Homo sapiens: one gene and its partners. The protein of the gene in region 2 purifies or fractionates together with the protein of the main gene of each other region. This does not show direct contact. Each region holds a gene or a part of one and is shown on either strand. Other genes may lie near its edges.

Evidence for each region.
Region 1: the proteins of SEMA7A (region 2) and TAPT1 purify together in Homo sapiens (affinity purification with mass spectrometry; one large-scale study listed by BioGRID and IntAct). This does not show direct contact.
Region 3: the proteins of SEMA7A (region 2) and DPY19L1 purify together in Homo sapiens (affinity purification with mass spectrometry; 2 studies listed by BioGRID and IntAct, with this or other methods). This does not show direct contact.
Region 4: the proteins of SEMA7A (region 2) and FAM185A fractionate together in Homo sapiens (co-fractionation; one large-scale study listed by BioGRID). This does not show direct contact.
Region 5: the proteins of SEMA7A (region 2) and SOAT1 purify together in Homo sapiens (affinity purification with mass spectrometry; 2 studies listed by BioGRID and IntAct, with this or other methods). This does not show direct contact.
Region 6: the proteins of SEMA7A (region 2) and TMEM39B purify together in Homo sapiens (affinity purification with mass spectrometry; 2 studies listed by BioGRID and IntAct, with this or other methods). This does not show direct contact.

Annotation. Positions count from the first base shown.
Region 1 is NC_000004.12:16,219,972-16,223,471, reverse strand, and holds part of TAPT1 (transmembrane anterior posterior transformation protein 1 homolog), read left to right. Parts: intron 1-3,500. UniProt on the Homo sapiens protein: Plays a role in primary cilia formation. May act as a downstream effector of HOXC8 possibly by transducing or transmitting extracellular information required for axial skeletal patterning during development. May be involved in cartilage and bone development.
Region 2 is NC_000015.10:74,413,459-74,416,958, forward strand, and holds part of SEMA7A (semaphorin-7A isoform 1 preproprotein), read right to left. Parts: intron 3,257-3,500; coding exon 3,117-3,256; intron 2,528-3,116; coding exon 2,343-2,527; intron 1,489-2,342; coding exon 1,380-1,488; intron 1,288-1,379; coding exon 1,089-1,287; intron 1-1,088. UniProt on the Homo sapiens protein: Plays an important role in integrin-mediated signaling and functions both in regulating cell migration and immune responses.
Region 3 is NC_000007.14:35,027,486-35,030,985, reverse strand, and holds part of DPY19L1 (protein C-mannosyl-transferase DPY19L1), read left to right. Parts: intron 1-3,500. UniProt on the Homo sapiens protein: C-mannosyltransferase that mediates the C-mannosylation tryptophan residues on target proteins.
Region 4 is NC_000007.14:102,747,574-102,751,798, forward strand, and holds the start of FAM185A (protein FAM185A), read left to right. Parts: upstream 1-1,425; 5' UTR 1,426-1,634; coding exon 1,635-2,085; intron 2,086-4,118; coding exon 4,119-4,225.
Region 5 is NC_000001.11:179,338,797-179,342,296, forward strand, and holds part of SOAT1 (sterol O-acyltransferase 1), read left to right. Parts: intron 1-641; coding exon 642-749; intron 750-2,231; coding exon 2,232-2,514; intron 2,515-3,213; exon of another isoform or gene 3,214-3,317; coding exon 3,318-3,396; intron 3,397-3,500.
Region 6 is NC_000001.11:32,100,151-32,103,363, forward strand, and holds the end of TMEM39B (transmembrane protein 39B), read left to right. Parts: intron 1-140; exon of another isoform or gene 141-291; coding exon 292-412; intron 413-590; coding exon of another isoform or gene 591-761; exon of another isoform or gene 762-921; coding exon of another isoform or gene 922-957; exon of another isoform or gene 958-1,964; coding exon of another isoform or gene 1,965-2,063; exon of another isoform or gene 2,064-2,280; coding exon 2,281-2,523; 3' UTR 2,524-2,713; downstream 2,714-3,213. UniProt on the Homo sapiens protein: May protect the cells against DNA damage caused by exposure to the cold-warming stress and facilitates tissue damage repair during the recovery phase.

The DNA of each region.
Region 1 (3,500 bases), on a different chromosome or scaffold from region 2:
ATATGTGGTTACTGGCCTTGAACTCTGGATGTAGTGGTTATCAAGAACTGCAGATTGATCTCTTCTGTATTTTCTTCCTGTCCTTGAAAATACTACCAACTTCTGTTGTTCCTTTTGACATAAAACCAAATAATCAATGTTATGTTTTTGTGCTTGTTCCCCACTTGATTCATCTGCAGAAGTCCTAGGTAGGAGAGTTTCTGTATAGCCATATTTTTATTTAGGAATCTAAGTACAGCAAATCAACTTTGGACTAAGCATTAGGAAATCTGTGTTTTTGGCTTGGTTGGGTTGTTGAATTGCTTTGTAAACTCTGTGCTTGCTTAGACTGCTTGCCTAATCAGTTTGGTTCTGTTTCATAATGCCACTACTAGATAGTTCAGTATCTGAAGCATCTAGGTTGCTTCTAGTCACCATGGAGACTTAACAGAAGGCTTGGTGTAAATAAGGGTAGCACCTGTGAGGGTAGCACAGGTGAAACAGTACCTGTGTAATGCAGGTGTTGGAGATGCATGGGGATAGGTATTGCTTGTAAAACAAGAAAGCCTGAAGTCGGGTATAGGTGAACATATTGTTTCTACTGGTAACAGTGCCATGGACCCATTTCTTTCTTCTTTAACAGTGACTCTGGACTTCTAAAACTTCAACTTATTATCCATCTCTTTTGCCTCTCTCCTCTCCCTTTAACCATGGTTAGACCTCTTCTTGCTTCACCTCTGTTAGAGATTGAGCAGAGGCAGGAAGAATGAAACCCAGAAAAGTCAACTGAATTTTTAGCAATACCCTTAAAAGATTTCGAGTGGGACGAAGGTTTTAACTATTCATATTACCTATGTCTTATTCTTTGTGTAACTGAAAATTTGTCAGTTTCTTCTTACAAATACATTTTTATTAAAATATGTTTTCATTTAACCAGTCTTCACCTATATCACATAGTTATCCCAGTGGCCCCAAACTTAACCAAATGGATGATTAAAGGGTGACTGATTCTAAAATTATGATCTAGAGCCAATTAATTTGTTCACAAAGAAAAATAAAAATAATAAAACCGGGAAATTACTTGGAGTAACCACAAACCAGATACAAAGTAAAATTAGCTACTTCTGACAAACTATTGCTTTGCTTTTAAAATTCTCACTTGCTTTACTTAATTAGTATATATAGACCAAACGAACAATGAAAAGTTACTTATTTTGGTTTTTGATCAGTTCAGTGTCTTGGCTTTTGACAGTTTTTAACTTTAACTTAGTTTACGCTCTGAAATTCAATCCTAGCAGCTCATTTGTGCTCCAATTTGGGGACTACTTGCATAAAAGAAGTCTCTGGAAAGCCTATATAGCATTGACTGTCAAATTAATGATATTCTATTCTCATTTGTAATCCTTTGCTTTATAACCTTATGACCTTGGAAAAAGTCACTCCTTTGTTTATACCTGTTTTCCATCTATACATGTGTAAATATTCTACTCTTTACTCCTCTAAATGAGACTATAAACATTTTTTCAAACATCTTAAAAACTTGAATATACTGTGTGAAATGGTTCTTTACTTAATGTTTGACTTAGGAAGGCAGAATTGCTGTTGTATGATTGAGTCCCAGAAAAGCTGATTACTAATTGGCCTGGTACAAGAGTGTGTCTCTGTTCAATAAGCTTATTTAATATTTTAGTGTAACCTTAATAAAGTTTACTAAAGTTTTATGTTATTTAAGACTATGGAGATATGCATGTTTCATATTTTCCTAACAGTTAACCAGTATTACTTTCCAAATTTTTAAATGCTCAATGCTATTTTAAGAAAGATATATTTAGACATATTACTGAACATATAAATATATTTATGATTACTCATTACTTTTAATTAATACTTTTTAATCTTTGGTTCTTATTTCTAAAATAAGCTTTCTTAGAAGATAATTAAACATTGTGTTTTTTCTTTTAGGGGTGAAGAAAAAGCAATTTATACTATGCTTTTTCTGAATTTAAGTTCTGGATCACAGAGCAATTCTGTGGTAGGAGATGATATCATGTAAAAATATGCTGGAGGGGCTGGGCGCGGTGGCTCACTCCTGTAATCCCAGCACTTTGGGAGGCTGAGGCGGGTGGATTGCCTGAGCTCAGTAGTTCGAGACCAGTATGGGCAACACGGTGAAACCCTGTCTCTACTAAAATACAAAAAATTAGCTGGGCGTGGAGGTGTGCGCCTGTAATCCCAGCTACTTGGAGGCTGAGCCAGGGGAATTGCTGGAACCCAGGAGGTGGAGGTGGAGGTTGCAGTGAGACGAGATCGTGCCACTGCACTCACGCCTGGGCAACAGGTGACAGAGCAAGACTGTGTCTCCAAAAAAAAAGTATATATATATGTACGTATGTGCTGGAGGAATTGATTTGGATTTATGATTGGTATTATTTTCCTCATATTACATATTCACAGTTGACGGCTGGGCACGGTAGCTCACACCTATAATCGTAGCACTTGGAGAGGCCAAGGCGGGTGGATTGCTTGAGCCTAGGAGTTCAAGACCAGCCTAGGCAACATAGTGAAACCCTGTCTCTATAAAAAATACAGTGAGCCAAGATTGTGCCACTGGGCTGCAGCCTGGGCAACAGAGTGAGACCCTGTCTCAAAAAAAAAAGAAAATTCACAGTTGTCAAAACATAGTTCTTCTAATGTTAAGCACTTGTTTATGCTATAATAGTAAAATGTTTCTTTTTTTTTTTTTTTGAGATAGAGTCTCGCTCTGTCACCAGGCTGGAGTACAGTGGTGCGATCTTGGCTCACTGCAACCTCCGCCTCCTGGGTTCAAGCAATTCTCCTACTTCAGCCTCCCAAGTAGCTGGGACTGCAGGCGTGCACCACCATGCCCAGCAAATTTTGGTATTTTTAGTAGAGACGGGGTTTCACCATGTTGGCCAGGATGGTCTCCATCTCTTGACATTGGGATCCACCCGCCTTGGCCTCCCAAAGTGTCTATTTTTAAAAAACTTTTACTGAATGATATTTCTTCCTGGTAAGATTGGGATAAATGAACTAAGATTAATTGACATCTTAAAAACTGAAATCAGTGTTCAGAAAGTAAATATTTGGATTATTGGAAAAATACTTATTTTTAAAACGTAGAGGTAGATGTTTGGCATAACAAATGAGAGTGACTGTTTTGCTTAGAAGGAATGAAATACTGCAAAAGTCTGACAGAAGTTAAGATGTACTTAGCTGTCAGAGTTCTTGGTGATACCCATAGGTAAAGAACAGTGGCTTTGCTAAATAATTAACCAGTCAACTGTAGCCAAAATTATAGGACAGATAAGTTCAGATAGGTCTATAGAATTCTAGAGAGCAATGTTTAACAAAATAAAAACAAGCGAAACACTGAAACGCAGGTATACCTCGGCACTGGAGATTGAGTGGCGCTCTGGGAAATGCAGCCTTCTCCAGGAAAAGGTGGGAATGGTCCTGGCAGAGCAGAAGCAGCGAGGCTAACTCGATGGCTCTGGCAGTGA
Region 2 (3,500 bases):
AATCCATGGCCCAAGTCCAGCCTTCCTTGTCCTAGCTCCTGCTCCCAGTTCCGCACTGTGTGACCTCTCCTCTTCTGCTCCCCAGTGCCCTGCCATCCCTGGCTGACCACAACAGCTGTGCCAGCCACTACTGGAGCCAAGCAAGGATGGGGGCCCAAGGGTGTAGCCGGGATGAATAGGGAGTAAAGAGGCAGGGAATCAGGACCCAGGCCCTGCCCTGTGGGAAATTCCTCTCCCCAAGGCTTCCAGGAGCCAAACAATGGTGCTGGGGTTCCAGTTTCCTACAAGGTCACCAAAGCCGAGACAGTTCCAAGGTGAAGCAGCAACAGGAGATCACATGGGGAATGTGAACAACTGAGGTTGGGCGCCTGGGCCTGAATTGAATGGCCCCAGGGGTGCTAGAGGCCCTTTCCAGTCTCAAGGAAGGCAGCTGGCATGGGAAGCTGCGACAAACCCAACTCAGGACTGGCTCCTCCGTGTCCTGTGGCTTTCCAGAAAGCAGGAGCATCTCCCACGGCATTCCACCCAGCTTCCCCCAGCAGGGCCTACTCCAGGGAAGAAGAGAAGCTGCCCCTGTCCTCTGTGAGATGGCAAAGGTTCTGCCCCCTGGAACTCCTTCCTCATACCTAATTTGTGCCCCATCAACTCCTCAAATGTTTCCTCTCACCTGCACAATCCCAAAGACAGGCGCAGGGCCTGACTCCCTCATTCTGCCTGGCAGAGGCCAGTATCCCTGTGGTTCAGGCCCCTCCTCCTCATTTGCCACGTCTCTTCCTACCATCTTCTTCCCTGAGTCAGACATCTGGACCAAAGGTGCACCTGGCTTTGCTCAGACTCTCCAGATTTCCGCCTCCAAATCCCAGTGCTTGCTTTTCTCCCATCCCCCTTTCCCTCTTGCCCCTACCTCCTCCAGGAAGCTCTCCCTGCCTGACTCTTCCACACCCACACACATTAACCCCTGACAACTCCAGTCACTCAATTATTCCTTCCACATGTAAAGATCCAACCAGATGTTAACTACATTATTCCTTACACCTTTCATGCCCGTTTTTACAAAGCAAACTGAGGGTCCCGGGGTAGCCTCTCACCTGTAGTTAGGTAAAGCACATGAAAGGTCTCCCCGTGGCTGGCTTGCATGCGGTGGACGGCCACTTTCTGGTAGTGGTATTTAGAGTGGAACAATGGCGTCTTCAGAGGCCCCATGGGCTCCACCCTCTGCGCCACCTCTGGGTGACGGTCAGCCACCTGGAAGGTCTCTGTGGGTATCGGCTGCTGGTCTGGGAGGCACTGGGCAAGGAGAGCAGGCCCAGGTCAGTGGGGTGGTGGGAGGTGAGGCAGAAGGAGGGCTGGGCCTGGGCCACGGCTGGTGTCACGCTCACCTTGCCAGGCCGCGGGTTGGGAAGGCTTGAGTGGTAGCCCTTGAGTGAGGAGGTACGGAAGACCTTGTCAATGTCACCGAGGGAATACACACAGACGGCTGAGTAGTTCCTGCAGTGACATGGAGACCAGCTCAATGGGGGGCCCAGAACCCACCCATCCACCTCCACTCACCCAGGCCAGCCTTGTGCCTGGCACTGAGTTGCCAACCACCACTGAAAATGGGGAGGGATGGAGAGGAGGAAGGAGAGGAGTTCAGCCTAATTTCTTTGTGCTGCAATTTAAAACCACAAACTTGTATCCTGTTACAGAATCACTGAGTCTAGAGGCCATCTGCTCTACCCAACCCCAAGGCAGGAGGAACCCCATCATAGGCTGAGCAGTTCTCTAGCCCTCCCTGGGCACAGGCTGTGGGGTGCTGATGCCCCAGGAGGCCAGACCCCCAACCCCTTCCCAGCCTGGGGGACCCCACTCACCCAGGAGCCACAGAGCAGGGTCTTGGCTTCCTCCACTCTATCCCTAACTCTCCCCACACACACCCAACACTTCCGCCTGCCGTGTGTTCAATCAATGAGAGTGATTAAGAAGTGTGAATTATCGGGCTCAGGCAGTGCCTGAGCAGGTGTAATAGCACCCAGCTCCCCGAGAGATGCTTCAGCAGCTTCCTCCTGGGCCCAGTGTCCACTCTCGGCACAAGCAGGTGGTGGGACACACAGGCACAAGTGCAGTCATGAGTGTGCATATAGGGCATGCACACACACCCATGAGTGCAGACTCACTCACACAACAGTACATACATCGCACTGGCTGTCCCCCCACCCCACACCCAGCAACAGCCCAGCCTCTTGAGCCTGCAGCCCCTGCTCCTGCCACACCAGGGAGGCCCTCAGCAGGGCCCAAGGCCTCCTGTCCCTACTGGACACTGAACCAATGCCAGCCCCGGCCCCAGGACAAGGGCCACTCACCAGGGGTTGGAGAAAACACCATAGACCCTGGTGTCCCTCCACTGGCCGCTGGGGTCAGGGAGCAGGAAGACGTCTTGCAGCCTGTTGAAGTTCTTGTTGGTGGCAGCATCACTGCATACCAGCATGGCTTTCAGAAAAGTGTTCCACTTGGAGACTGACAGTGAACTTTCCCCACCCTGGTCCCCCTGGAAGGGTAGAGGGGAGAAGAGGCCCCTCAGCACCTGCCCGGGCTTCCCCACACACCCCAGGAAACCACTGCCAGCAATATCAACACCTGGGCCCAGAGGAGGAAGGCAGGCTGTGAGGGGCCAGGACCTGCCGGGGGTGCCCCAGGACTCAGGGCAGGTCTCCAGATGAGACTCCAGCAAGCAGGCCTGGCTGATCCAGAGCCCAGGGCCAGCAGTGCCCAGGGTCAGGGCAGGTGAGAGTGCCAGGTCCCCACAGAGCAGACGGACTCAGACACACATTTACTGACTCACACACCCACACACGTGGCACAGCACATTCACACAGGCAAAACACACACACACACACACACACACCCCATCATACACACGCTCACACGCCATCATACGTGCACAGGAGCTCAGCCACCTTTACCCACACACAGACACATGATGCTCCATGCACACACAGCTGCTCCCACAGTCCCTGACACAGACCCACTCATACATCCACACAACTTCTACATGCACACGGACACACAGAACTCACCCTCACTCAGGCCTATTCATGCACAGACACGTAGCCAGCAGCCCTCACGCCCCTGCTCACCCTGCACAACTGGGCCACACGGGACACATTGAGAGGAGCCTCAGGATTCTTGTCAGGATTGTCCTCTCGGAAGAAGTAGTAGATCTTGTCATCGTAAGCCTGGTCTTGGTGCACGATGGTGGCTTTGATGAACTGTGGGTCTGCCAGGGACAGAGGCGAGTGGGCGTAAGGCTGGGAAGCTTGCCCGGGAGACCATCCCAACCCTGCACACTCTCCTCCCTCCTTCGGGTCTGCACAAACCATGGCAAATCAGATCTGGAATAGGACTCAGAACATCAGGTCCAACTCCCCGAGGGGCCCTAGACCCTGCACCTCCACCCCACACCTGTTTTGCCCTCTTCCTACAAAGATGTCATCGGCCCAGGAGCAATGACTTCATGCCTG
Region 3 (3,500 bases), on a different chromosome or scaffold from region 2:
AGGCTGCTAGTTTTATTTAGTTACTGTTAGAACTGTTTAGTTATAATGGTTACTAGTCATCAAAGCTAGTAAAAATTACGTCTATATCTGGGTCTAGATGTTGTTTAATCTCATAAAGGGCAGTTTCATTTCATAGGGAAGATCAGTTCTCCATGGAGGACCTTTCATAATTCAGTCAAGAATCACTGAATATAAATACATTTAAAAAGCAGAATAATTTATTTTCAGAATACATAAATCTACAACTATTGTAGCTTGATTTTGTGCTTTAATACTGCTTTCTATTTTCTCAGCATTCTCACTATTATTTTTTTCCTGAGAGCTCTTAATAGCTGTTTGTGTTTTTCTGGCATCTTTCTCCATATTTGTGGCTGATTGTCAGGTGTGTTTTTCAGCACGATCACTATCACATAAAGAATGTTTGGATGGCATTTTGTAATTTTAACTTTATTAAAGCAGCAATTGTTAACATAATAGCGTAGCTGTCACCAAGACCACTTACAGAAGTTCTAGTATGGTTTATTGTACTGATCATGAAAACGTGTGATTTTATCTACTAGTTTACAGTAGCACTAATTGTAAACACAGTTTATAAGTCACTTGACCAGTTACTTTTGAAAACTTGTTACCTAGACAAATTATTAGTTTAGGGAGATTGTTGTAATTGAGAAGAGCGAGGCTTTATTAATATTTTTAATACTAAAATTTGTCCAAAGTGCTACTACTCTGCCCTTTGGGCAAATACTTTTCCTATTTCCTAACAGTAATTACTACTTTTTATAATATAGCTTTTCAGTGTTGGAGTTGTCAACAGCAGAATCTTTTTCTGCGGGTTTTCATATTAATCATAAAGTTCTTATGTAATTGTTTTCCGCTAAGTTTAAAAAGTTGTTGTTGTTTTTTGAAAATGAGACCTTATTTCTCACTCTTTTCTCATCTTTCATATCCATGGGAATGTTATAAAAATGTAGAACTTAAAGGTTACCCTCTTAGAATTTTCTTGGTGAGAAAACTAAAATAGGGCCAGGTGAATGGCCCAATGTAATTATTGAGTTCAGCAGGTGAAGTTTGGGATTGAAGTTGAGTTCTCTTGTCTTTGTTAATTACATCCGTGTAAAATTGTAGGTTTCAGATCTAAAGTCTAAGGCATCTGTCAAAGGCACATTAGTGGGAAGTTGACCTCATGTGTCCCATGACCCTAGAGCTCTTTTGACAAGAGCTTTACTGGCTTCTGGTCATTTGGGGGAATCACTCTTTTATATCTTTATGGTCAACCTGTCAGTCTCTGGGGTTTTTTTATATGATTATTTTTGAAAACTATTTAATTGAATTTTTTTGTGTTGGTTGGCTTGGCAATGATATAACAACACAGTAAAATAGTAAAAAACTGTCACAGTTTTCTTAGTCACTTAAAAGATAAGCAAGATTTGTGATACCCAGGGGAAGCTTGCAATTTGAGGGGAATGCATATCTTACCATTGGAATGGGTTATCAGTTAATGAACTTGTTAAATCTCTTGCTGAATATGATGGGGCCTGGACGTGTGTTGTAGGTGTGTGTGGTTCTCTTTTTACTCTAGTGGAGAGATGCAGATTCTACACTTTTTCCATTAGGTTTACTAAAGTTTTACAGCTTCCCTATGCATGCTCAGAAGCAGATCATATTATCTTGGTTGTGTATCTTATCTAGCCATTTGTTCTTAAAACAATAAAATGCACTTTTTTAATAAGAAGAAAGTTACTTTATGAAAATTACTAATGTAGATTACTGTTTGATTTTGAAATGTTTGCGTCAAAGTCATTCGAATCAGAGCAAATCCATTTCGAATGGAGGCTGAGTAAAATAAGGCTGAGACCTACCAGGCTGCATTACCAGAAGGTTAGGCATCCTAAGTCACAGGATAAGATGGGAGGTCAGCAAAAGGTACAGGTCACAAAGACCCTGCTGATAAAACAGCATGCGGTAAAGAAGCCAGCCAAAACCCACTGAAACCAAGATGGCGATGAAAGTGACCTCTGTCATCCTCACTGCTCATTATACACTAACTGTAATACATTAGCATGCTAAAAGACATATCCACCAGTGCCATGACAGTTTACAAATGCCATGGCAATGTCAGGAAGTTAGGCTATATGGTCTAAAAAGGGGAGGAACCCTCAGTTCCAGGAATTGTCCCCCCCTTTTCCAGAAAACTCATGAATAATCCACCCCTTGTTTAGCATATAATCAAAAAATAACCATAAGTATGAGAATACTATAAGTATCCTTAGTCCAGCAGCCCAAACTGTTCTACCTATGGAGTAGCCATTCTTTATTCCTTTACTGAATGAACTTGCTTTGGACTCGCCCGGAATTCTTTCTTTTGCAAGATCTAAGAACTCTGTCTTGTAGTCTGGATCAGGACCGTTTTCTGGTAACATTTGTATTCATATTATGTGAGGATAAGACTTTTAAGGGAAATTAGAATTTATTGTCTTCAAAACACTTACGTTGAGTAGTTGTATTAAGTATTGCCTAATTTAATATCTGTACATATATACATATTTAAAATATGTGAACATTTACTTAGTGTATTTCTCTGTTTAGAAGCCTAATTATATTCCGCTTTGGGATGGTGATATATACTTTCCATGCTCTCCTGTTTTCATATACTGTATTCACTTTAAAATAAATCGTTTTGTCCTTGATGCTCTTGTGATTTCTAAGGCATTTCCTCCTGTGTGCTAGTGCATCCTCTTCGTTGAATGTGCTTAACATCTTCGAGCCTGAGCTTGGAGTCAGAGAAACCCAGCTCTCCTCCAGGCCTTGCTGTATCCCAGTCATGTGCCCCTGAGCCTCATGGGAAAATAAGACCCATATCTGCCTCAAAGGCACCCCTAGATCATTTTTGCTTAATATGTGAAAGGGCTCTCTAAACTGCAACTGACAAACAGATGTTAGACATTTTCATTGTAATTAAGTTTTCTAATTTTTTCTTAACTGTTGGAAAGCACAGTTTTGCTTAATGCAAAATATATGGAGGAGATTCTGATTAACTAAAGTTGTGCTTAAAACCATCATCATGTAGACCACTGATTTCTAGATCTTACTAGGGGCAGTAGTTTCTTCAGATCATGACTGAATTTTATTTTTATTTATTTATTTTTTGAGACGGAGTTTTGCTCTTGTTGCCCAGGCTGGAGTGCAATGGCGCAATTTTGGCTCACTGCAACCTCTGCCTCCCAAGTTCAAGCGATTCTCCTGCCTCAGCCTCCCAAGTGTCTGGGATTACAGACATGTGCCACCATGCCCAACTAATTTTTTTTTTTTTTTTTTTTAGTAGAGACGGGGTTTTGCCATGTTGGCCGGGGATGGTTTCGAACCCCTGACCTCAGGTGATCCACCCGCCTCGGCCTCCCAAAGTGCTGGGATTACAGGCGTGAGCCATGGAGCCCGGCCTTCATGACTGAATTTTAAAAGCAATCTTGCTTCTCACTTTGAAACTCAATATCTCTATTAAT
Region 4 (4,225 bases), on a different chromosome or scaffold from region 2:
TAAAAAGGTAGTGGCTAGCAGAGAACCTGAGACTTGTACCCATGAGAACTTTAGCCCAGTCTATCTATCACGATAGCCCCAAGAATTCTGGTCATTGTACTTGGGTAAGGGCTTCTATTTTTTAAGGCACTTGCATTTTATGAAATGTTAGTGTTTGCAGGTGTCTTGGCTAAATAATTTAGGGAATACATTTTAGGAGGAAGTAGGGGCACAGAGGGGGAGAGAGAAACCAGGCAGGAAAGAAGAAAAAAAGAAAAAAGAAGAAAATAAATCTTTCTGTTCCCATTATTTTACTGCCTATAGAATTATAAAAGGTAAACACACACACACACACACACACACACACACACACACCCCTTATAGGGTCATTTAGAACCATCTTTCTTCATTTTAAAACTAAAGAAACAGGTCTAGGTGACACAGATGAAGCAGTGGCAGAGCCAGGAAAATAACCTGACCCTTGTCCCTGCTCTTTCCACCGCACCATGGTGACTCTCTTTTTTGTGTCTTTTTTTTTTTTTTCACTCTAAAACTGAGGATCATTTGTAGTCAAAGAGATCAATGCTATTCTCAAAACAAGTTCTGATCTCTCATAATTTTCTTGGTAACTCAGAATCAATGTTAAGTACGTTGAAATAAAAATACAGTTCTTTACACGGTAATTTTGTAGACTGTGCACCACGGTCCCATCCATTTTCTTACTTGATCCTTACAAAAACCCTTTGAGGCAAGGCAAGGAAGGTATTATTATCTACATTTTTAAAGTGAGCAAATTAAAACCCAAAGTAAGGTCACTTAGGGTCAGGACGGAGCAAGTACTCTATTCCTATATTTGGAATATAGGAGGGAATACACTTCCAAAGAGGCAATTCCCTCAAAAAGCACCAATCTTGCTCTTTACTTTCTTACCAAGGCATTCTCCATGCCCTGGAGATGCCCTCACTAAGTTAGTGAAGCTTGGATGTTGACATCCACAGAGGTTACTCCTAGTTTGCACCTAGTTGTCATCTTAAAAAGCGCAGTTTCTTACCCCTTCCCTTGGTCCTGATCCTTATTTAGGCTCCTATTTTTCTCTTTGGGATTTGGCGTCCTGGGTCTCACTCCAAAGCTCCACCCTCTCCAACCAAGAAGTCGCGTGCTTGGTATCCAAGGTGACCACGCAGCTTTACCCGCGTTGCCCCTTCCGTGCTTCCCATTGGCCAGTGGACTCCCATGTACCGCCCCTCCAATAGCCAATGGTCTTGAGACAAAGGGCGCCCGCCTTTCCAGCGATTCTAACACCTACCCTCTTACCCGTGCTCCCCTGCGCATTGCCTCCTGGGAAATGTGGTTTCTAAGAGGCAGAGCTCTGCGACTTAGAACTACCTATCCCGTCGGCCTTAGCGAAAGGGGGTGGACTTAGGCAAGGGGTCCAGGTCAGAGTTTAGAGCTTTCAAATCCCAACTTGCCCCTGGGGATTGCGCGGCTGATGTTTAGAACGCCTAGTCAAGCCAACCGGCTCGCTCTTGTTTCAGCAAACCCTGACTTACGTCTCCTATTTGACTTGAGGCGGCACAGTGGCCAAGTCGATTGGCCGTGGCAAGTGACCCTCCCTGTGGCTGAAGTGTTCTGAGGACTGGCGAGAGAGGCGCGCCATGCTTGCCCCCTGCTCAGGTTGGGAGCTTGGCTGCTTCCGTCTCTGTCTCCGTCAGGTCCGACTGTGGGCTGGCGCTGGGCGCTGGGCTTGCTGGGCTTGCCAAGCCAGGCCGTACAGCTCAGGTGGGAGCGAGCGCTGGCCCGGATCGGAGACTGAGGTCCCTCCGCCTGGCCCGGGGCGCCGAACTCTGAAGGAGTGGACACTGCAGGTGAGCCCGTTTGGTCGGCTGCGGGCGCGGCTCCCGTGCCACCTGGCCGTGAGGCCCCTGGACCCCCTCACCTACCCGGATGGCGACCGCGTGCTGGTCGCGGTGTGCGGCGTGGAGGGCGGCGTGCGGGGCCTGGACGGCCTGCAGGTGAAGTACGACGAGGATCTGGAGGAGATGGCCATTGTGTCTGATACTATCCACCCCCAGGCGTCCGTGGAGGTGAACGCGCCCCTGAAGTTTGGCAAGTGAAGTGAAGTGAAAACGGGTTTGGGTCCCAGGGAACGCACAGTGAACTTAATAAATGTGGTCGACGTGCACTTTTAATTGGTCCTGGCTCTCTAAACCTAATTTACAGTTGGCCCCTTCGGAAATGCACCTTTTCCTCTGTTCTGTTCTTGAGTGTCCGAGTAGTATTTAAAAATTAGGTTCCCAATTATAGAAATTTTATACATCGAATGGAAACATGATTTGGTATAATCCAGGTCAAATTCTATTTCTGGAGCCGCTTGTGTTCTCCTTTATCCCGTTGTCATTAGCAAACTGGCTTATTTTTCAAGGTTGAAGTTTCTTGACAATTCATTCAATGGTATGGCAGTCCATCTACATTTCATCTTGCTCACAGCCTGGGGGTCTGTCCCAAAACAGCCCTGTCAATAGGATGTTCCGGGTATCACCTGGTTTGAGTATTTGGTTTTAGACGGGCGCCCAGCTTCTTACTGTTATATTTCCATTCTTTTTGGCCTAAGTTTTCCATGAGTAGCAAGCTTTGAAGAAAAACACATGGTAAGCCTGCCTAGGAAGCTTCAATAATAATGCCTGCAAGATACCTTTCTTAGCTTTTCCTAAATGGCAAGCCACTGTGTACACACACTTTTCTAGGAAGGGCTCCCCAGACTGTCATTCTTCCTGGGACTGATGGAAGATATTGATGATGATGATGATAGTAATAATAATAGCATTTAGCATTTTTAAGATCATCTTTTATAATGCTTAGAGTTGCCCAAATAGTAGATGCCGTAGTCCTCCCTTATCCACCGTTTGGCTGTCTCAGTTTGTTACCTGCCTCAGCTGTTGTAGGAAAATATTAAGATATTTTGACAGATCACAGTAATATAACTTTTATTACAGTATATTGTTATAATTGCTGTATTTGTTATTATTGTTCATCTCTTACTATGCCTAGTTTATAAATTAAACTTGATCATTGATATGTATACAGGAAAAAACATAGAATATATAGGATTTGGTACTATTTGTGGTTTCAGGAATCAAGTGGGGGGGCGGGTCTTGCCTACTTTAAGAGAAATCATCAATATTTATGTTAATTCCAAATTAAATATCAGCGTTTTTAATTTTTAAAATTTGTATACAGAGATGCCTGCAGTTACATCTTAAATAGACAGCCAAGGATGGCATTTGTAATTCCTTATTTTCCAAACTTGCTTCATATACCACTGCCATTTGTCCACAATCTTGTGGGGTTTTTTGTTTGTTTGTTTTGGTTTTTTTTGAGACTGCATCTCACTCACTCTGCCACGCAGGCTGGAGTACAGGTGCACAATCATGGCCCACTGCAGTCTTGACTTCACGGTTTTAAGCAATCTTCTCGCCTCCACCTCCTGAGTAGCTGGGACTACAGGTGCATGCTACCATGCCCGGCTAATGTTTTTGTTTTTTTGTAGAAATGGAGTTTTGCTACATTGTCCAGGCTGGTCTTGAACTCCTGGGCTTCAAGCAATCCTCCTTCCTCGGCCTCCCAAAGTGCTGGTATTACAGGCATGAGCCACTGCTCATGGCCTAATCTTGTAGTTTTAATAGTATATATTAGCTTTTTCAAAGTTGTTCCCATTTTTAAAAAATTACTTCAAATACCTGTGATATAGTTGCATGGTAATATTTTCATTTTTTAAGTATGAAAGGTTAGACATAGGATTTGAAAACCTAAGTCATGATCATATATACTGGGGAAGAGGCTTCTACAGTCTTTCACAGGAGTACTTAACAGAATCGTAGTCTCCTTTACTTCCCATCTATGTTAGTTCTCTTTAGGTGATTTAGGCCAGTAGAAATAACTGCTCTGTTTCTAAAAACGGGCAGAAAGGCTATTGTTTTTGGTCCCGTTGCTGTGGTAGAAGACCCCTTACCTTTACAGTATGCACTTTCCAGGATTCAGCAATATTACGGACATAACTGAGGAGTTGGGTTTCTAGGTTAAAATGCTTTGGAGCTTATAAACTGCAGTACTAACTTGCTTTTTTCTTTTTTTACTTCTAGGTTTAGATATCAAGTCATCAGGGTCTGGCTGTGTAAAAGTTCAAAGTATTGAGGGTGATAATTGCAAAATTGAAACAGAGCATGGGACTAGTATCTTGCAGTCTGTT
Region 5 (3,500 bases), on a different chromosome or scaffold from region 2:
AGATGAGTTTTTATTAGACTGTGAAGATCCTTGGTCCAGAGATTGAGTAGTAGTATATTAGATTACTCAAAATCATTTAAAAGATTAGCATTATCTTTCCAAAAACAAGTTAAAACAAGTTTAAAAACCTGTTTTAGTCAGATATAAAAGATTATTTAGGAAAAGTCATCTATATTATTGTTATATTCTAAAAGAAAATTAGACCAGTCTTAAATACAAAAGTCAATGAGAAGGTAAAATCTTTGTAAATGGTTGAGTTTTATAGACGTGTAGGGTAGTAATTGGTTATCATCATCATCATGATCAACATTATAGAAACTCATGTCAATTTTAACATTTTGGAAATAGGTAGTACTTAATATATATTAAATTTAGGGAGTAGAATATGAATAGGATTAAAAAATTCTTAACATTTGAAATAGTTTGTTTCCTGTTTTTAGTGACTGGCCTTTGTTTACTTAGAAAACATCCATTTCTGGTAGGTTTTAAAGAATGTAGACCATTCTTTTTTGAGATGTTTTTGGAGAGTGGATTAAGCATCTTCTCAACTGCTTTAAGTTAACTGCTTTAAGAAAAGATTTTATGGTGTTTTAAATTTAAATATACATTATTAACTTGTTTTGTTTGAACTACATTTACAGTGAACTGCTTGAAGTGGACCACATCAGAACAATATATCACATGTTTATTGCCCTCCTCATTCTCTTTATCCTCAGCACACTTGTAGTAGATTACATTGATGAAGGAAGGTAAGACAACAAAAAAGATGGCTGGCTAGTTGATGCATGAGAAGTTAGAGGTTTTCACTAAATTTTGGTAAAGGGTAAATTGATTAAATTGCTTCAGGAAATCCTAAAGCAGCAGATTTGAGGGTGATATTCCTTTGCCCTGAAAAGTTTAACTGATGGAGAAAATTAGAAGTTTCATTACTTTTATTTTTAAAATGGTTTATTTGAATAGACCATAATCAGTAATTTCTAGGTAATTTTCCCAAATGGGAGAACTTTATACACAGTTGACCTACGAACAGCACGGGTTTGAACTGTGCATGTCTATTTATACACAGAATTTTTTCAATCAATGTGTTTAGCACTCTGTATCCATGGGTTCTACATCTGCAAGCAAAGGCTGATTGGGATCTAGAGTATTCCAGGATGCAAAACACACATATAAGAATGGCAGATTTTTCATATCTGTGGGTTCCACGGGGCCAACTGTGGGCCTCGAATTTGCATAAGTTTTGGTGTCTGCACAGTTTCCTGGAACCAACCCCCCATGTATAGGGAGGGATAACTGTATATGACTTATTAACTTTTTGATTGTCTTTATTTAAGATGGTTACTTAAAACAAGTAGCTTATTGGAATTGAAGGTTGAAAAAGTTGATATTTCTTTTTAATGTGAAAGTCAAATTATAGGCCAGGCATGGTTGCTTGTGCCTGTAATCTCAGCACTTTGGGAGGCCGAGGCGGGAGGATCACTTGAGCTTAGGAGTTGGAGACCAGCCTGGGCAACATCTCTACAAAAAATTTAAAAATTAGCTGGGCGTGGTGGCAGACACTTGTAGTTCCAGCTACTCAGGAGGCTGAGATAGGAGGATCGCTTGAGCCAGGGAGGTTGAGGCTGCAGTGGAGCTGTGTTTGTGCCACTGCACTCCAGCCTGGATGCAAAGGAGACCAGATCTCAAAATAAAATTTTAAAACTCAAATTGTAGCTTAAAAAATGACAGCGTGGTAATCATGGATTGAATTATGTACTTTTTTTGAAAATTAAGTTTGGAGATAATGGTATAGTATATTAACATATTTTTAAATTGTACCTATTTCTTCTGAAAAATCATCTTTTGTACATAAGAACGATTGCTGTTTGAATATTTTCCATAGAATATTTTACAGTTAGAAAATTAATGTGAGAATCTAATCTTTCAGAAGTTCAAAGTCCAATTATCTTAGATATCTTAAGTTTGAAGACTGTATTTATCTTAGGGCTTTTAGAAAATTTGTTTCTAAAGAACATATATTGTTGATATATATATATATATATATATTGTAAAGCAGATGGTTAGAAGCAGATCTCTAACTAGCAGAACTATTACATCCATGACTTCAGCGTATTAACGTTGTGGTGTTTCCTAAGGTTGAAAGTTTGGTGTTTGAAACTTTTAAATTCTGTGAACTCAGTGTATATTAAAAATTCACCTCTATGTTCTTTTTCTGTACCTTTTCTCCCCAGGCTGGTGCTTGAGTTCAGCCTCCTGTCTTATGCTTTTGGCAAATTTCCTACCGTTGTTTGGACCTGGTGGATCATGTTCCTGTCTACATTTTCAGTTCCCTATTTTCTGTTTCAACATTGGGCCACTGGCTATAGCAAGAGTTCTCATCCGCTGATCCGTTCTCTCTTCCATGGCTTTCTTTTCATGATCTTCCAGATTGGAGTTCTAGGTTTTGGACCAACATATGTTGTGTTAGCATATACACTGCCACCAGCTTCCCGGTTCATCATTATATTCGAGCAGGTAAGGTTTTAAGTGTTACCCAAGGCGATGCTGTCCTCGGCTAAAATAATAATAATGATGATGACATACTGATACTATTATTTTTAGCTGTATTAACTTGGATAAATTTTCATATATTGTTCTTTTGCCATTATCTGTAAAATTGTTAAACTAGAATCATCTCACCTCTTAAGTTTCATTGTAGCTTCCATGTTCTCTGAATTTTGATAAATAAATTACGTTGAACTTTTTTTTTTTTTTTTGAGACAGAGTCTCGCTCTGTCACCTAGGCTGGAGTGCAGTGGCACCATCTCGGCTCACTGCAACCCCTGCCTCCCAGGTTCAAGTGATTCTTCTGCCTCAGCCTCCCAAGTGGCTGGGACTGCAGGCGCCTGCCACCACACCCGGCTAATTTTTGTATTTTTAGTAGAGATGGGGTTTCACCATATTGGCTAGACTGGTCTCAAACTCCTGACCTTACGATCCGCCTGCCTCGGCCTCCCAAAGTGCTGAGATTACAGGCGTAAGCCACCGCGCCCGGCCACATTGAATTATTTTTGATGCATCAAGATTTTGTTTCTGAATACTTTTTGTAAAAGTCATTTAAATTATAAAATATTTTCATAATTAAAAACTTCACTTTTGAAATGTCAGATTCATTGTTTTGTCATGTAACTATATAATAAAGGTTTTATTTTAATTTGTTTATACACTTATCAGGATTTTCTGACTTTACTGGCTATCTATAATGCATTTGACTAATGGAAAGGACACTTGCAGGAGACTTTCTTTGAAGAGACATCTTTTTCCTCCTGCTTTTGTAGATTCGTTTTGTAATGAAGGCCCACTCATTTGTCAGAGAGAACGTGCCTCGGGTACTAAATTCAGCTAAGGAGAAATCAAGTATGTAATTTCTTTTGTTCATTATTTCTTCCTCCCCTCCCCTCCTCTCCCCCCACCCCATTCCCTTCCCTTCCCTTCCCTTCTTTCCTTCTTTCCTTCCCTCC
Region 6 (3,213 bases), on a different chromosome or scaffold from region 2:
AAGAGGTGAGACCAGATGAAGCAAAGGGACCCAGAGAGGAAGAAGGGTTCTCTCAACAGTCTCTTAGTAATTAATGTCAGCCCTAGACCACCTAACTCACAGTACAGTGAATTCCTCATGATTCTTACCCCATTTTACAGAGGAGGCAACTGAAACCCAGAAAAGGAAAGTCAGCGTGTCTAAGTGATAGAAATGGGAGTAGAGCCCTGGTGATTCCCTCCTGCCCATTCTTCTGGTATCCCTTTTGTGGGTGAGCTGGGGATAAGGGGCACCATTGAACTGTGCCCCCAGGTGGACTGAAGAATGCATGTGGCCGCAGGGCGTGCTGGTGAAGCACAGCAAGAACGTCTACAAAGCCGTAGGCCACTACAACGTGGCTATCCCCTCTGACGTCTCCCACTTCCGCTTCCATGTGAGTCTCCTCCCCGGGGAAGGAGGGTTGGGGCCTGAGAGGGTGGGAGGATCTGCAGGGCAGGAATGTGATGTCATTGCAAGAGAAAGCTATTTTCAGTATTTCCCCAATCCAAAGGAAGACAGTGCACACATGTAGCACAAGGACAGCCATATAAATTGTCACTTAATAACTGCAGCTCGGCCGGGCATGGTGGCTCACGCCTGTAATCCCAGCACTTTGGGAGACCAAGGCAGACAGATCACCTGAGGTCAGGAGTTCAAGACCAGACCAGCCTGGTCAACATGGTGAAACCTCGTCTCCACTAAAAATACAAAAATTAGCCAGGTATGGTGGCGGGCGCCTGTAATCCCAGCTACTCGGGAGGCTGAGGAGGGAGAACCACTTGAACTCAGGAGACGGAGGTTGCAGTGAGCCGAGATCATGCCACTGCACTCCAGCCTGGGCAACAGAGCAAGACTCATTCTCAAAAATAAATAAATAAATAACTGCAGCTCATTTGGTTGTAGATCTTTGAGAACATTGGACAGAGGGAGAGAAGATGATACAGTAAAAGAAGGGGCTCTTGGCAGTGAAAGACAATACTGTCTTCATTTGTTACTGTGTGCCAGGCATGTCGTTAAGCACTCTCCATGTACCTTCCTACTCAGCCTTACCCTGAACCTTGTACGTGAAAGATATGCTAGGGTTATCTCTGTTTTTAGATACTGAAATCAGCTAAGAGAGTTTAACTTGTTAAAGGGTGCCTTCTTGGGAAACTTGAGAACCTAATGGTAATGACTCATGACTTAGCTATGGAAAGGGCTGCTCAAAATTATCTAAACTAGTGATCTCTATTTTTTTTTAAATTTCACTATGAAATCCCCTCCCCCCCTTTTTTAAAAAAAACAATCAGAGGCCAAAATCCAATATATGGGACATCCTGGCACTGCTCTGTTTGGAGGAGTTAGAACCCCCTTCACTTCCTGCTCACCCCCGCTGTAACTCCTAAAGGATCCCCTTGAAACCTGGGGCTCTAAGGAACACAGCATGAGAAATCACTGACCTAGACTGATGTCTTCATTTCACAGTTGAGACATCCAAGCCCCAGAGAGGAAAGGGACTTGACCAAAGTATTGCAGCCTGTTAGGTGCAGAGCTGAGCCTGATATCCTGGTCTCTTGGCCTCCCATTTCCTACCACTTCTCCTGTCCTGTAAGCAGCTCTTGAGATTTAGGTACCTTGGCCCCTGTGGAATCAAAATCCCTAGACACTGTGCACTCTTTTGAACTCATCAGAGATTTTTTTTTAGTCCCTACGTTCTACCTTGCTGTTGAGAGTGAGCTGTTGCCATGTCCCTTGGCAGCTTCCAGCCTAGCTAGGGATGTACCTATGAAGTAGTAGGTAATTCAGGCTGTAGAGTCTGTAATAACTTTCCATGCCTATGTCATAGGATTCTAATTTGTTCAGGCCCAGCAATACCCAGGAGATGACATTAAAAGGTGTTGATTTTATTGAGGGTCAGTGGATGAGGGAGAAAAAGTTTTCAAAAATTAAAAAAAATTTTTTTAAAGGTGTTGACTTTAGACCACAAAAAGAGTTTGAGAGAGCAAGCAGAACCTGTCAAGAAAGACTTCCTAGGGGAGGTAGAAGTTGAACAGGATCTTAGATGACTTACATCAGAAGCAGCAGTCCTATCAGGAGGAATACCACAAGCAAAGGCAGATGAGGTGGCAAAGTCCACATCCAACCCCAGAAAGTCTTCTTCCCCACCCATGTCTGCATGGGGCCCCAGGAGGCTGTCCCCTTCACTGGCCCACCCAGAACCCCCATCCAGGAGGAAGATTTCTGGAGCACACCTTTTAGCCATGCCCACCCGCTTCCGGGCAGTTCTTTTTCAGCAAACCCCTGCGGATCCTCAACATCCTCCTGCTGCTGGAGGGCGCTGTCATTGTCTATCAGCTGTACTCCCTAATGTCCTCTGAAAAGTGGCACCAGACCATCTCGCTGGCCCTCATCCTCTTCAGCAACTACTATGCCTTCTTCAAGCTGCTCCGGGACCGCTTGGTATTGGGCAAGGCCTACTCATACTCTGCTAGCCCCCAGAGAGACCTGGACCACCGTTTCTCCTGAGCCCTGGGGTCACCTCAGGGACAGCGTCCAGGCTTCAGCCAAGGGCTCCCTGGCAAGGGGCTGTTGGGTAGAAGTGGTGGTGGGGGGGACAAAAGACAAAAAAATCCACCAGAGCTTTGTATTTTTGTTACGTACTGTTTCTTTGATAATTGATGTGATAAGGAAAAAAGTCCTATTTTTATACTCCCAACAAGCCTGTGTCCTGTGGTTCTTTTCCTTCGTGTGTGTGAGACCTATTACAGAGGTGTGGGATTCTGGTTTAGGAAGCCCCAACATGTGGCTTCTGAAGCCTCTGTGGGTACTGCCTTCTTCAGTAGAGAGGAGATGAGAAGGCACTGGAGGCCACGGGAGCAGTGATAGCTACTGCGAACTGAATGCTCACTGTGTGCCAGATGCTGCTCTGTGTGTATTTCAGGCCTTGCCTTAATCTAACTTTTATGACAACCCTAGGAGGAAAGTGCTATCACTCCAATGGATGAAGAACTGGAGCTCAGAGAGTTATAGTGACTTGCCCGTAGTAACACAGCTAGGAAGTGGTAGAGCTGGACATAAAACCTCTGAAAGGCCGGGCACAGTGGCTCAAGCCTGTAATCCCAGCACTTTGGGAGGCCGAGGTGGGCAGATCACTGAAAGCCAGGAGTTCGAGACCAGCCTGGCCAAGATGGCAAAACCCCATCTCTACTAAAAATA